Regions from separate parts of the Homo sapiens genome. Here region 1 is linked to region 2. Evidence: fine-mapped expression QTL. Tissue or cell type: CD4 T cells. Region 2 holds a variant in brackets; the other region holds the start of a gene. All regions are shown on one strand. Distances are between the middles of the regions.

Evidence for each region. PIP is the estimated chance that this variant, and not a neighbour inherited with it, causes the effect.
Region 1: ELMOD2 starts here. The variant in region 2 is fine-mapped to the expression of ELMOD2 in CD4 T cells (BLUEPRINT, PIP 0.95).

Annotation. Positions count from the first base shown.
Region 1 is chr4:140,519,251-140,527,613 of GRCh38, reverse strand. ELMOD2 (ELMO domain containing 2) reads right to left here and starts at 3,446. Exons shown (of 9, transcript NM_153702.4): 1 at 3,334-3,446; 2 at 2,044-2,194; 3 at 120-148. The coding sequence starts at 2,185. RefSeq lists silencers at 3,085-3,204, 3,395-3,744.
Region 2 is chr4:140,097,045-140,103,527 of GRCh38, reverse strand. The region is part of intron 1 of MAML3 (mastermind like transcriptional coactivator 3); the gene reads left to right. Among named protein-coding and RNA genes, the nearest start is that of MAML3-AS1, 28 kb to the left of the region's middle. The variant T/A (reference allele first, on the strand shown) is at 3,430.

The DNA.
Region 1 (8,363 bases), 420 kb before region 2:
GAAAATTTCACTCAATGCTCACTATAGAAAACACTCTTCTAGCAGGGCACTTTTTTTTTTTTAAGAAAAAATATGTCCACGTTAAGTTTTCTAGAGTTACCACCTTTATGTTATCCTACCTTATTCTTGGAGTATGTCAAGGAATTTTCTGAAATGACAAAAAAAAAAAAAAGATGTTATCACTTAAATGCTGTTTGTCAATTACCCTATAATAAACAACTAGTAAAAATATCAAACCAGTAACAAACTAATAGTTCCAGGAGATATAATTTCTATATAACAGGAAGCATTTTAAAATTTAATCTTACAGTATAAACATATGATTTCAAAAAACTCAACCAAACACAAAATACCTATTCAAAGAGGTGACACCAACCTCATTACCTGGGGTCATATGTTTCTGTTTAGACCCCAAAGTGTCTACTAACCACTGCAAATTCACCCATAATTGTGTCACAGTAGCTCAGGTCCCAGAAACTCATCTTAAGACTACAATGAGAGTGCTCTCTACTGCATTTTCATTTGTTAGCCTGAGCCTTTAGATTTGAGGTGATAGCAACCAAATCGTACAACAAATAGGCAAGGACTTCAGATTATCTGGTCAACCCTTCTGTCACCAGACAAATAGCTTCTCCATTCCTGGTTTCTATATCAAGAATCACAGGAACATTTTTATTGGTCTATTTAAAAAATTTTCTGGCACATTTACGAATAATCTTTTCTCAGCAATTTGAAAAATTTAGGAAAAATGCTTTTGCCACAAACAAATGCCTTTATATATATTCTTCCCCCACACTATAAAACACCAACCCATACTGCCTGAAGAGATTTCTTATCAAGAGGTACTTTGTTCTTTTGAGTAGTCAAAAGGGCAAATTAAAAGAGCAGCAATAATTTAAGTCAACCATGAAGTTGTAAGAAAACTAGGAAAGTAATTAAACTTAATCAACCAGCTGCTATGAGGCAGCGTCTGTCTGTCATTCTTCCGATGTTGTCTTGGATACAGGTTCCATTTGCCAATACTCCACTCTCTTAACCTGACAGGGGTTGATTTCTCAGTCGAAGCACACTTGATCAACACAAAAAAAAAATCTGGCTAATTCACAATTTTCCGTTTAACACAGAGAGCATGAGCTAGAGCACTTCTCTGCTCTTCCTTACCCTGGCTGAAAAGAAGCGACTTCAAAACACAGTTCTTACTCATCTGTGTTCAAATTTTAGAGTAAAATTTTCAATGAAGCACTGAAAACTGATGTATTTTAGAAGGTAACAGAGCAACACTGTTCAACAGAAATATAACACAAGCCAAAATGTGACCCATTTGTGTACTTTAAAATTCTGTATAGCCACATTAAAGTAAAAAGAAACAGATAACATTTTAATATATTTTTAACCCAACATATCCAAAATATTACCATTTCAACATACAAAGAATATAAACAATTACTGGGACTTTTTACATTTTCTTATAAGTCTTTGAAATACAGTTTATATTTTACACTTACAGCACATCTCAATTTAGACTAGCCACATTTCAAATGCTCAATATAATGTGGCTATTGGCTATGGTATTGGACAGTGAGAATGAGTCTAATAATCTTTCCTAGAGACCACTGGATACATAATTACAGGCCTTTCATAAGTAACAGTAAGAAAGTAAAAGACTGATGAAGGATCCTAAGTATAAAAATGGATGTAGACTGAGGCACTCATTCTTCCCACCATGTGAGTGAAAATTTCAAAGGGATTATGTAAGTATAGAAATTTTTCACCAGAAAATAGGTTGCAACTATAATCTAAGGAATAACCGATAAACTTCAGGAGCCAGAGAATTCTTTCCACACATAAGCAATTAAATAACCACTTTTTCTATAAATTCATACAATTTTAGAGCTGAAGGAGTCAAAGCGGGACTTCAGAGCTTATGAAATTCAGTTTAAGTGACTTGTCAGGATACAAAAGAAATACATCTGTCACTGTGAGTCCTGAGAAAAACACTCCGTTAAACTTTTATTAGTACTTTTTCTTTTTGAATAACATTACCTATCCTGTGTGTCCTTTGTGCACCTACATAGGTATCAAATATTCGCTGCAATTCACACTTCCCAGTCATCTGTCGTAATAGCCATTTCATCCAAAATCGAAAAAAGTGCCCATAGAAGAACTCCCACAAAGAAATAAACATTTTTTTTTCCTGGAGGAGGGAAACATACAAGACAAGCTTAATGACCTTAAACTGAATTTTAAAATTTAAAAAGTTTATACAACTGATCAAATCTCAAATTATGTATCTATCATTTCATTGTGTCTGTTTTGACAGTTTAATTAGGCATTTAAAAACAATGGCAGGTGTAATATATACCGCTATTAATTGATGATCAAATGGCCAATTAATCACTTTTTCAAAACTAAAATTCAAACAATGTACTCAAACTATTCAATGGCTTGAAAGAGTAACAGAATGGTTTGCACTTTTTGCTAAATAATTGTATTTCATATCTTAGTTTCCTAACTTCCCATTCTTTGAGAACTGGGGCTCAACAGTTCAAGATCAAGAGGACTCCAACTAATCAACAATTAAAATATATACCAAAACATCAGAGTTGTTTTTATAGAATACACTCTTCTTATCCCATGTGGATAATTCGTTACAACTGTCCCAGTCAGGTGATGCCAGCAAATAAAAACACTACAAACTTAAGTATACAAGTTGAACACTGAGTATATAACACCTTAGCTCATTCTTGATTTTCCATTCAATAGGTCAAGGGCAGAAATACTAACAAGTTTTTGTTTTGCTAAGTACACACTCGATACAACTATATCTTATGCCATAAGAAAATTCTTCAGCTTCTAAATGAAAAAGTCAGGGAGATACTAGTGAGAGGGAGATACTTAAAAACAAAATTGCTCGTCTCCTTCCTGCCTTAAACATTCCCACAGACACGTCACCTCTGGACTAGGGCCTGAGGAGGGACTGTCGAAGTTCGAAGTACCCGCAGGTCAGTGCAGAAAGAGCGCATAGCACAGCTGGGTTGATCATTATCTTGAAAATCAAGCCATCTAGTCCGCGCTCATTAGGACAAAAGCGCAGAACTGCCGAGCAGAGGGGATGCACGCGTAGCGGCGCCTGAGCACCCCAGGGCTCTGGGCGTCTCTGCGCCGACCCCCCTCGCGCGCCGCCCGCGAATGGGAGGGCAGGGCTCGCACAAAGACCCGCCGGCCCAGGCGCCCCCGGGTTCCCGCAGAACCCCGCGGGGCTCGCGAGCCCGCGCGCTCTCAGTGCAGCCGCACCGAGGCATCCGGGGCAAGAGGAAAAGAAACAGCAGCCACCTCACAGGAGCGGAAGAACTAGGGGGAGCAGGAGCTGCCTCGGTTTCCCCACTGCAAACAGCCGGCAACGGAAACGACGGAACACTCCCTTCAAGCACCGCGACCCGGAAGTCAGGGAGCGAGGCCGCGGACCCGCCTTCCCAGGGCCACTGCCCGCCCCGCCCCTCCGGCCTCTTCCGATTGGCCCGCGCTCCACCTATTGCTAACGCTGGAGAGAGGTCGAGCTGAGTGGCCCAGGCGCGAGGGCTCAGATACTAGGGACGCCCAGACGGTTTCCCTGGCAACGGCGGCCAGGAGCCCCGCCCCGCGCCGGAGTAGCGCCTCCTAGCGCTGCGCTGGAGACTTTTCCCTCCTTGAACCTCAGGTCCTTAGCGCGGGTTGACACCTTGTACTATTCCTAGGCTCCAAGCGCGGAAGAAACCCTGTGCTTACGGTAACTTATAGTGCCTTAGTTACAAAAGCGCTTTCATCTGCATTGAATCTTAATTCTGTGAAGTAATTATGAATAACTCCACTTTATGCACGAGAAAAGGGAACCGGCTACTTGACTGTGGCCAATACGTGGCAGATGAGGAAAGTCCATGTGTTGAGAAACGAAGTTTGGACTTTATCCTATAATACTATAGGTCTAAAAGTTAATTTATCAAATGTTTATTCCCTAACTGGTTGTTTTTGTTGAAAAAGTAATTTCGTGATTACTTTTTAAAAACCTCAAGCAGTAAGTTTCTTAATTCAACAAGTATTTGTTGATTGTTAGCACAGGCAGTGTTCCAAAAGGCAGTCAAACACGAAACAAACAGCCAAATATTTAATATGTCAGATGCTACTAAATGTTAAGGGTATAGGGGTTGTTAGCTAAGGGGTAATGGGGAGTCTGTGGGGGAAGTCATTGCATACAGTGTGGTCAAGGAAGTCTCATTATTAACGTGGCATTTTGGCCTCATTGAACGAAGTAAGGGAGTTTACTGTGGGAGTATCTGGAGGGAGAGTGATCCAGGCACCAGAATGACAAGTGCAAAGACCTTGAATTGGGAGGGTTTTTGAAATGTTGGAGGAAGAGCAAGAAGGCCGGGGTGGCTGGAGGAGAAAGAGCAAGGGGGAGAGTAGAATATAAATACAAAGGACAACTGATACTGAAAACAAATTTCCCCATCCACCCAAAACTCCTGATACCTCCGTCACCTTGCTCAGAAGCAACCAGTATTACTTTCTTGTTTCTAATTCCAAAAATATTATATGCAAGTGTATATATGTATATTCCTTCCAACTCCTTGAATTGAAGCAAGTGATACATACTTTCCCACATCTCAACCAGCGTTTAAAAAATGGACTAATTGTAGAACACTAGCCATGTGCAGGGTGCATAAGCCGTCATCCCTGTCCCATACCAACAATGAACTTGGTAATGAAGTCTGGATAGACACTACAATAGTAAAATCACAGAATCTTAAATCTTAAAGAGAACTTATAACTATCATCTAATGTAATTTTTAAAATTATAGATTAAAAGATTTAGAAAGGCAAAGTGCACAGCCGATTTGGCAAATTGACCTGTAAACTAACTTCTATTTCAGGAGGATCTCCATTATTACACAAACTTTTACATAGTAGAAGGTGAGATAATTCTATATGTAATCCTTTTGCCTTTTCAAAGTGCTATACTAAGTGTAGGCAGTGCAGTAGAGGAACTCTCTCCTCCTTGTTTCCCTGCTGCCTGTTTGCCCACTTCCATTTATGTCTTTCCCCAAGAGAAGAGAATGCTGATATGTTTTGTCAGAACCAGAGAAATTGATTAAGCTGCATTTATTATAAGCAGGGTCACTGTACATTAAAACTTCTTATGCATACCTTTTGCCTCTTCCCTTTTCCACTAATTCACTTGCATGTAACTGGCAGATACATTAAACAAATCCTGTTTCTCAGGAAAGATTGTCCATCTCTATTTCTTATTCTCTTTGGTTTTCTTCTTTCTTGTGGCTAGCTAAAGGTTAATTATATCCTAAGATTAAGATTCTGGTTTCATGGAGAAAGTGGGACCTTCTCCATCTAGGTCCCTAGGTCTCTCAACCTGTGTGCATCTACGTGGCCTTATCAGATACACCTACATACAAACCAAAGGCAATAGAGGAAGGAAATTTGGTTATATTTTTTAGTAGTACTGAGGAATCTCTGCTTTCTTGGATTCTCAGACTAAACAGCCATGGAACTGTTGATTTTAGAAACTGCTTATTGGAAAGAGTTCTTTGGTATGACTGTTTTTTGTTATTATACTTTAAGTTTTAGGGTACATGTGCACAACGTGCAGGTTTGTTACATATGCATACATGTGCCATGTTGGTGTGCTGCACCCATTAACATGTCATTTAGCATTAGGTATATCTCCTAATGCTATCCCTCCCCCTTCCCCCTTCCTGTCCCCGGTGTGTGATGTTCCCCTTCCTGTGTCCATGTGTTCTCATTGTTCAATTCCCACCTATGAGTGAGAACATGCGGTGTTTGGTTTTTTGTCCTTGCGATAGTTTGCTGAGAATGATGGCTTCCAGCTTCATCCATGTCCCTACAAAGGACATGAACTCATGATTTTTTATGGCTGCATAGTATTCCATGGTGTATATGTGCCACATTTTCTTAATCCAGTCTATCATTGTTGGACATTTGGGTTGGTTCCAAGTCTTTGCTATTGTGAATAATGCCGCAATAAACATACATGTGCATGTGTCTTTATAGCAGCATGATTTATTGTCCTTTGGGTATATACCCAGTAATGGGATGGCTGGGTCAAATGGTATTTCTAGTTCTAGATCCCTGAGGAATCGCTACACTGACCTCCACAATGTTTGAACTAGTTTACAGTCCCATCAACAGTGTAAAAGTGTTCCCAATTTCTCCACATCCTCTCCAGCACCTGTTGTTTCCTGACTTTTTAATGATTGCCATTCTAATTGGTGTGAGATGGTATCTCATTGTGGTTTTGATTTGCATTTCTCTGATGGCCAGTGATGGTGAGCATTTTTTCATGTGTTTTTTGGCTGCATAAATGTCTTCTTTTGAGAAGTGTCTGTTCATGTCCTTCGCCCACTTTTTGATGGGGTTGTTTTTTTCTTGTAAATTTGTTTGAGTTCATTGTAGATTCTGGATATTAGCCCTTTGTCAGATGAGTAGGTTGTGAAAATTTTCTCCCATTTTGTAGGTTGCCTGTTCACTCTGATGGTAGTTTCTTTTGCTGTGCAGAAGCTCTTTAGTTTAATTAGATCCCATTTGTCAATTTTGGCTTTGGTTGCCATTGCTTTTGGTGTTTTAGACATGAAGCCCTTGCCCATGCCTATGTCCTGAATGGTAATGCCTAGGTTTTCTTCTAGGATTTTTATGGTTTTAGGTCTAACGTTTAAGTCTTTAATCCATCTTGACTTGATTTTTTATAAGGTGTAAGGAAGGGATCCAGTTTCGGCTTTCTACATATGTCTAGCCAGTTTTCCCAGCACCATTTATTAAATAGGGAATCCTTTCCCCATTGCTTGTTTTTCTCGGGTTTGTCAAAGATCAGATAGTTGTAGATATGCGGTGTTATTTCTGAGGGCTCTGTTCTGTTCCATTGATCTATATCTCTGTTTTGGTACCAGTACCATGCTGTTTTGGTTACAAGCATTCTTATACACCAACAACAGACAAACAGAGAGCCAAATCATGAGTGAACTCCCACTCACAATTGCTTCAAAGAGAATAAAATACCTAGGAATCCAACTTACAAGGGATGTGAAGGACCTCTTCAAGGAGAACTACAAACCACTGCTCAAGGAAATAAAAGAGGATACAAACAAATGGAAGAACATTCCATGCTCATGGGTAGGAAGAATCAATATCGTGAAAATGGCCATACTGCCCAAGGTAATTTACAGATTCAATGCCATCCCCATCAAGCTACCAATGACTTTCTTCACAGAATTGGAAAAAACTACTTTAAAGTTCATATGGAACCAAAAAAGAGCCCGCATCGCCAAGTCAATCCTAAGCCAAAAGAACAAAGCTGGAGGCATCACACTACCTGACTTCAAACTATACTACAAGGCTACAGTGCCACATTTTCTTAATCTAGTCTATCATTATTGGACATTTGGGTTGGTTCCAAGTCTTTGCCATTGTGAATAATGCCACAATAAACATATGTGTGCATGTGTCTTTATAGCAGCATGATTTATAATCCTTTGGGTATATACCCAGTAATGGGATGGCTGAGTCAAATGGTATTTCTAGTTCTAGATCCCTGAGGAATCGCGACACCGACTTCCACAATGGTTGAACTAGTTTGCAGTCCCACCAACAGTGTAAAAGTATTCCTATTTCTCTACATCCTCTCCAGCACCTGTGGTTTCCTGACTTTTTAATGATCGCCATTCTAACTGGTGTGAGACGGTATCTCATTGTGGTTTTGATTTGCATTTCTCTGATGGCCAGTGATGATGAGCATTTTTTCATGTGTTTTTTGGCTGCATAAATGTCTTCTTTTGAGAAATGTCTGTTCATACCCTTCGCCCACTTTTTGATGGGGTTGTTTGTTTTTTTTCTTGTAAATTTGTTTGAGTTCATTGTAGATTCTGGATATTAGCCCTTTGTCAGATGAGTAGGTTGTGAAAATTTTCTCCCATTCTGTAGGTTGCCTGTTCACTCTGATGGTAGTTTCTTTTGCTGTGCAGAAGCTCTTTAGTTTAATTAGATCCCATTTGTCAATTTTGGTTTTGGTTGCCATTGCTTTTGGTGTTTTAGACATGAAGTCCTTGCCCATGCCTATGTCCTGAATGGTATTGCCTAGGTTTTCTTCTAGGGTTTTTATGGTTTTAGGTCTAACATTTAAGTCTTTAATCCATCGTCAATTAATTTTTGTATGAGGTGTAAGGAAGGGATCCGGTTTCAGCTTTCTACATATGGCTAGCTAGTTTTCCCAGCACCATTTATTAAATAGGGAATCCTTTCCCCATTTTTTGTTTTTGTCAGGTTTGTCAAAGATCAGATGGTTGTAGATGTGTGGTATTATT
Region 2 (6,483 bases):
CTTTCTCAGAAGCACAACAAACACACACATAAACAACAACAATAGAAGAGTTCCAATTAGGATTTTCAGAACACAAATACCCATTTAAATGTACCTAACATTTCTCTGCTAGAAGCCACTTTAAATTATTGTTCTTTTTAAAAGGAAAATCCAATATAGTTGAAAGCTTGTGCTTTATAAATATGTGATGCTTCCCTGCATTATCTGAAAGAGGGAGAAAAACCATGTCTTGCTTTTTGGGATTTAACCTGTTTTAGCTGATCACAAAATCTTTATTAATTGCATTTATTAGCTATATAGCACTCCAAGGTCTTTGAAATTTTTTGGTTGCAAAAATCTGATGAAAAAATTAAATTGTATATTATCTTGTAATTTTGCAAAAAGCATGTGATTGAGTTGTGCCCTGCCAATGACTTCTAGTAGCAGAGCAAGCAGTGGTCCTTCCTCACCATTGAGAGTGGCGTCGGGGAGTTTCTTGCAGTTACAACAAAGCCCAAATTATGGGGACGGTGAGGGGAGTCTTTGGCCACAGAATAGGTTTGGGTGTGAGCTGCACTTTCTGCCTTGCTAAGTGTCAGTTTTTCTGGATTTTACATTTGTCTTCCTATAGCTTCAGCTTCCCTTCTTTCCTTTACTTCCTACTGTGGCCTTCATTCTCTTCACTTGGTGGTGATGAGTAATTTTACACAAGGCCATTTTCTCTGGACATAGACTGAGGCAGTGATGGGATGGTGAAGTACCACGGATAGTAATCAGGGGGACCACAGATAATGGCAGGGAGCCAGGGTGTCTACCCTGGCTCTGCACTGACTGGCTTGGTGATTTGTAGAGTTCTTAGGGACTGACTCATGTGCCTGCAAAATTCATAGGCTGAAACCCTAATCCTCAATGTGACTGTATTTGGAGGGCGGGCCTTGAAGGAGATAATTAAGGTTAAATGAGGTCATAAGGGTGGGGCCCTAATCCAGTATAACTGGTGTCATTTTAAGAAGGGGAAGAGACATCAGGCATAAGCATGCACAGAGAAAAGGCCACATGTGAGGACACAGATAGGAGGCGGCCATCTGCAAGCCAAGGATAGAGGCCTCAGGAGAAACCAGCCTTGCTTGGCACCTTGATCTTGGACTTCCAGCCTCCAGAACTGTGAGAAAATAAATTTCTGTTGTTCAAGCCACCCTGTGTTATTTTCTTACGGCAGCAATAGCAATTGCTAAATACAAATATAGGAGAAAAATGAAGTCTCTCTAGGATTCCATTTCCCATCTTGAAGATGGGGCTAGAAATCGTTTCTACAATAGAGAGTTATATGAGAATAAACAACATAATGTAATCAATATAGTGCCTCAATTCATGCCTTCTCATAGATGGAGAATTTATGCCCACAAGCACAGGCTAGTGTCCATTTTCTAATAACTCAGCTTTTTGCTGAGTACTTAGCATTAAAACAAAACAACACAAATCATTTATACATGTTAAGTTTCAAGTTTCCCACTTCATTTTGCCTGGCTGATGGCTCTTAGAAGACACAAACTTATGGCACAGATGACTTCTTCTGGTTCTAACTTGTGTTATCTCTTTTTCAAAAGTTAGTTAAATTCTCCATATATTTTAGTGTTGTTCTATTGGCTAGAAAGACAAAACAAGGGGAATCTGGCAAATGTAAAAAAAAAAAAAAAATGCTCAGCTGACCCAGCACGTGGAATTGCATTTACTAATTTAGGCTATTTTATATAGTGGAATAACATATTTGCAAAATGATGATAGTACCTTGAGTTTACCTAGCCTTTTTTTGGCCAAGGAACTGAAGGTGTTTTCAGTCCATAACCTGATTTCATTTCTAATTTACACTGATCTAAGAGGTATCACGTATGCTTCTCTTCATGTGATAGCTAGGCAAATGAAGACACAAACATTTCTTCCTCATATACACAAGAGATGTGGATGGTAAAAGACTGAAATGGAGGGTCTCCTGGCTTCCTGAGTAGAATTCTACCAAATTGTTCCTGAAGTTATTAACCACATTTGCCCCAATATCTGTTGACAGATAGAACAGCTGTGGGTAAACTGAACTTATCTGAAAGAAATGTGTATTATACATTACACAAGTGCATTACAACTGCAACTGTCCAAGAGCCTGGTGAGTTTCTCATCCCTTCAACTAGACCATCAGTGACTTGGGAGCTCTATTCTACACAAGGCCACTTTCCTCCCTTTAGAGGAAAAGTGTTCTATTAGGTAGGGTAGGACGCTGGGCCAAAAGGGATTAAAATTGTGTTCCTGTTACCTATTGCTAACTAGCAAACCACACCAAAACTTGACGGCTTAAACAACCATTATTTGATTATATCTGTGATTTTGTTCAAGCAGGGCTCAGCTGAGTGATTCTTCTATTCCATGTAGCGTCGACTCTGGTCCCTTGCTGTTAGTCAGTCAATGGCTGCTCTGATCTGGAGGATCCAATATGGCTTCACTCACCTTCCTGGCACCTTGGCAAGGATGCCTGGAAGACTGAGCTCCCCACTGGGCCTGTCTGCCTCTCCATGGAGCCTTGGAGCCATTCCATGTGGTTTCTCCATTAGGGTACTCATATTTCTTACAGGGAAGCCCAGGGTTCCAAGAGACCAAGGCCAAAACTGTTAGTCATATTAAGCACTAGGTTTGGAAATGGCATAATATCACTCCCATATTCAAAATCACTCCCATACTTGATTGGTCCAAGCAGTTATAGGCAACTCACCTTTAAAAGTGGTGGACGCAGGTTGTGGAATAGACACATCTGTCCATGGAAGAAGGATCAAAGAATTTGTGGTCATTTTTAATCTACCACATATGGTGTATACCTCTGTGGTTTGCTGAGGTTTTTGAAATCTTTTTTTTTTTTAATACACCTAAGACTTCATTTTAAGTGCATCTTAGTTTTGCCAGAATTTGAAGCACTTTGGGAATGGCTTGCTCCGTTTTTACATTATACAAACATACACACACATATATATGTTTTTCCACTAAGAAATGCCTCTATTCACAGGGGCATTGTTTAGTTACTTCTATCCTCATTCTGTCCTTTCAGTTCAATAAATTATCTGTTTGGTTTTATTTTCTTCTTGCAAGGAAGGATAAAACTTGAGGACTGTTTGTAAAAATGAATACAATTTGGTCTCTGTCATGGAGGAACTGAGTCTAGGGGGGTGGACCCTCATAGATATGGATAACTGGAGAACAAAAGTTTAAATAATAAACTTGAGAAAGGCATAGACACATGAGTGGAGGCTTGAGTCAGCAGAGGAAATCCGGGAACGTTGCAGAGAGGAAGTGGCACTGGGGCTAAGCCTTGAAGGAGACAGTGATCTCTACAGATGGGAGGGGGTGGAGTGGGGCTGGCATCCCGGAGGAGTGGCAGTGAGAGTCCATGCACCAGAGCAGATGGCATGC[T/A]CCACTCACAATGACTGGGTGCCTGGAACGTGGGGGCTGCGGTCGTTCAAGGGGCAGGGGTGGGGTGGTCATGGGGGAGTTGAGGCTGAACAGATGGGTTGGGGACACGTGGACTTTCTCTGAATGCAGATTTGTTCTGAATGTTATCACCATAGGAGGATTTGTGACAGGGAGTGCCATGATCAAATTTCTGATTTTTGAATGTTGTTTGTAATAGCAGGTTTGGGATGGTTTGAAGGAGTAGTAGACAAAAGGCTGAAAACCCTGTCGGAGAGCAGTAGTCCAGGAGAGATGAAACTGAGTGATAGAATGGAAAAGAAAGGTTTTGAGAGGTGTGTTGGGGAAGGGAGGTTGGAGAAATAACTTTCTGATTGCCAAACATGTGTTCAGACATTCTGCTCATCCTTTATCTAATTTAATTTTCACCAAAATCCATTTTTCATATGCAGTAACTGAGGCTTTGAGATGTTTAAAAACCTCCTAGCTAGAAGTGAATAGGATTGAGATTCAGAGCCAAGCATGTTTGGCTACAAACTGTCTATGATTTCCCATGAAACCTTGCCTTACCCACTGAAAATAACTCCAGGCGGGAGGATTGCTGGAACCCAGGAGTTCGAGACTGCAGTGAGCTATGATGGTGCCACTGTATTCCAGTCTGGGTGGCAGAGTGAGACCCTGTCTCTAAAAACAAAGACAGAAAGAAAGAAAAAAAAGAAAATAGCTACAGATTTCTTACTTGTGAGACTGGGTGGATGCTTGTGTCAGTAACAAAATTAAGAACTCAGTATTTTGCTTAAGGCTTTTAAAAAAGTTTTGCTCCTGAGTTGTTTGTGTGCACGTGTGTGTGTGTGTGTGTGTGTGTGTGTGTGATATACTTCCAATGTGAACAGAGTTTTATGAACACTTAAAAGTTTTTAGCTAGTGTCTATCAATTCTATCAACAGGAATGTAACAGATCAAAAAGTACTGTAAAACATACAATTCATGTCAATTTTACTGTCCTTATTTTTTTGTGCATAAATTATTCTTGGCCTCATAACTGATTTTATTGCACATTACAATCTTGTAAACAAAGAGCCTATTGTACCACATCTGGAACAGACCGAGACATCAAGGGAGGGCTGGGAAGCAATGGGGAGGAAAAGTAAAAATGAGTCAGAGAAACAATGTAGCAGTTCATGTGGGAACTTCCTCTGAATAGAGGGTATCCCTCCCCCACCTCAAAATAAGTCACCTTTCTCATTTTAAGAGCAAAAAGGCAAGAGAGACAGCAACCTATGTCTCTTAAGTTCTATTTCTGTCTAAACCCTGGAGGCCAGGGTGTGGGTGGCTCCAGGGCTCTGCTTTTGGGTCCCCAGGTGAATAGCCCGATGCAGACCAGTAGCCACATGGCCTTTGTGCCCAGGACTCATGGGCAGCGTGAATCTCACTTGAAAATTCAATCCTTGGTGCAGAGCACCATGAGATATTGAAAATAATGGTGTTTGGCATTGGTACTGCGTCCAGTTGGTTTCATTTTCACAGGCTTTCAGAGCCCCTGAGAAGTCCTGGTGATGATACGGGAAGGATAAGAAAGGGGGAATCTGGCTTCTCCCTTTGGTTGGTGAGGCTCTGTGTTTACAACACAGCCTGGCGTATACGAGGTGCTCAATAAATATTTACTAAATGCATGATTGCTTGAATGCCATGTGCCAGCTTCTGTTAAGTGCTTGCCAGCTGATATTTCACTTAATCTTCATAAAAAATGATGAAACCTAGTTCCCCATTACACAGATGAAGAAAACAAGGTCTAGAGAAATAATTTGCCCAAGGACGTGCGCATTGTATGTAATAGAGCTCGGATTCAAAAAACCTTTGCCCTTTTGAGCATACTGCGAATATTTTGAGTGAACTACAAATGTTCTTTATCACAATATTGTTTGGGTATAAATAAACACACTTCACATATGCAAAATAGAAGTTCTCCCAGTTTTTGAAAATGTGAGAACTCTTAAGAACTCCCTGGACCGAGCACATAATTAATAGGTGTTCAGTAAATGTTGAATAAATGAACGATAGCTTATTCTCTCTATTCTAATACTTCGTAGTGGAGAAAAACGTGGAGGACTTGAAGGCTTTTAGCTTTTAATAAAAATGCTCTTTTCAAGACAGGTTTCTTAATACAGGCAGGTTGACAAAAATGCCAAGCCAGTCAGTGATAGCTGGTTCATGCCCTCTATCCTATGCCAGTTTGGAAATATTTGGTGGAAACACAGTATTGGAAATATTGTGGTAACTTTTCCCATCTGGTTAAAAGTCTTCACTTCCCTCTTGTCACCACGAAGGAACGTGAGCTTGGAGATGAGGTTGTGAAATTTCCAGTTTTGCAGGTATGGTCAGATAAGTGGCCAAACTTTAGCTTCTTTCCCATCATTCTGTCCACTTAACTCTTTGGTATTATTTATAAAATTAACCTTTTTTTTTTTCTGGCCACTCTTCACCCCGTCTTCCTTCAGTACATTCCTTCTTCAGTATCCGGTTTCAGGAAGATTTTCCCTTTAATACTTCCCAACTTTTTTTTAAATCCCATTTCAAAGCCCCATCTTTTTGAAAAATAACCAGGTAGCTCTCATCCTTCCCTTCTTTGGATTTACTTTGGTTGTACTTGCTGACCCACTACGGAAATGACCATGGGACTGTAACAACTCGAACAAAACCTCGGCTTCGTCTTCTCCTTCTAAGCAGCTCCTGTACACTGAAGGAGCTGAGATGAGGTGGTGAAAGGTGGAGGGAGAGAGGAAAGGAGAGAGAGACTGAGGAGAGTGGGTTATCAAGACCAAAAGAAGATTATCATTTCCCAAGTGGAACCTGCCTTGAAATAGACTCATCTCTTATGCTCTTGCCCTGAATTGAAATCTTAGTCCGTTTGTGTTTTGCATGGATGGGGAGGTGTGGGACATTCTATATTTGGTAGTTTTCTGGCAGATAGTGTTTCCTGTTTCACTGTGTTTTAAAATAAAACTAAATATACAAATGTATTCTCCAGGGTATTGGGCTGTTTTAGGCTGTGCACTC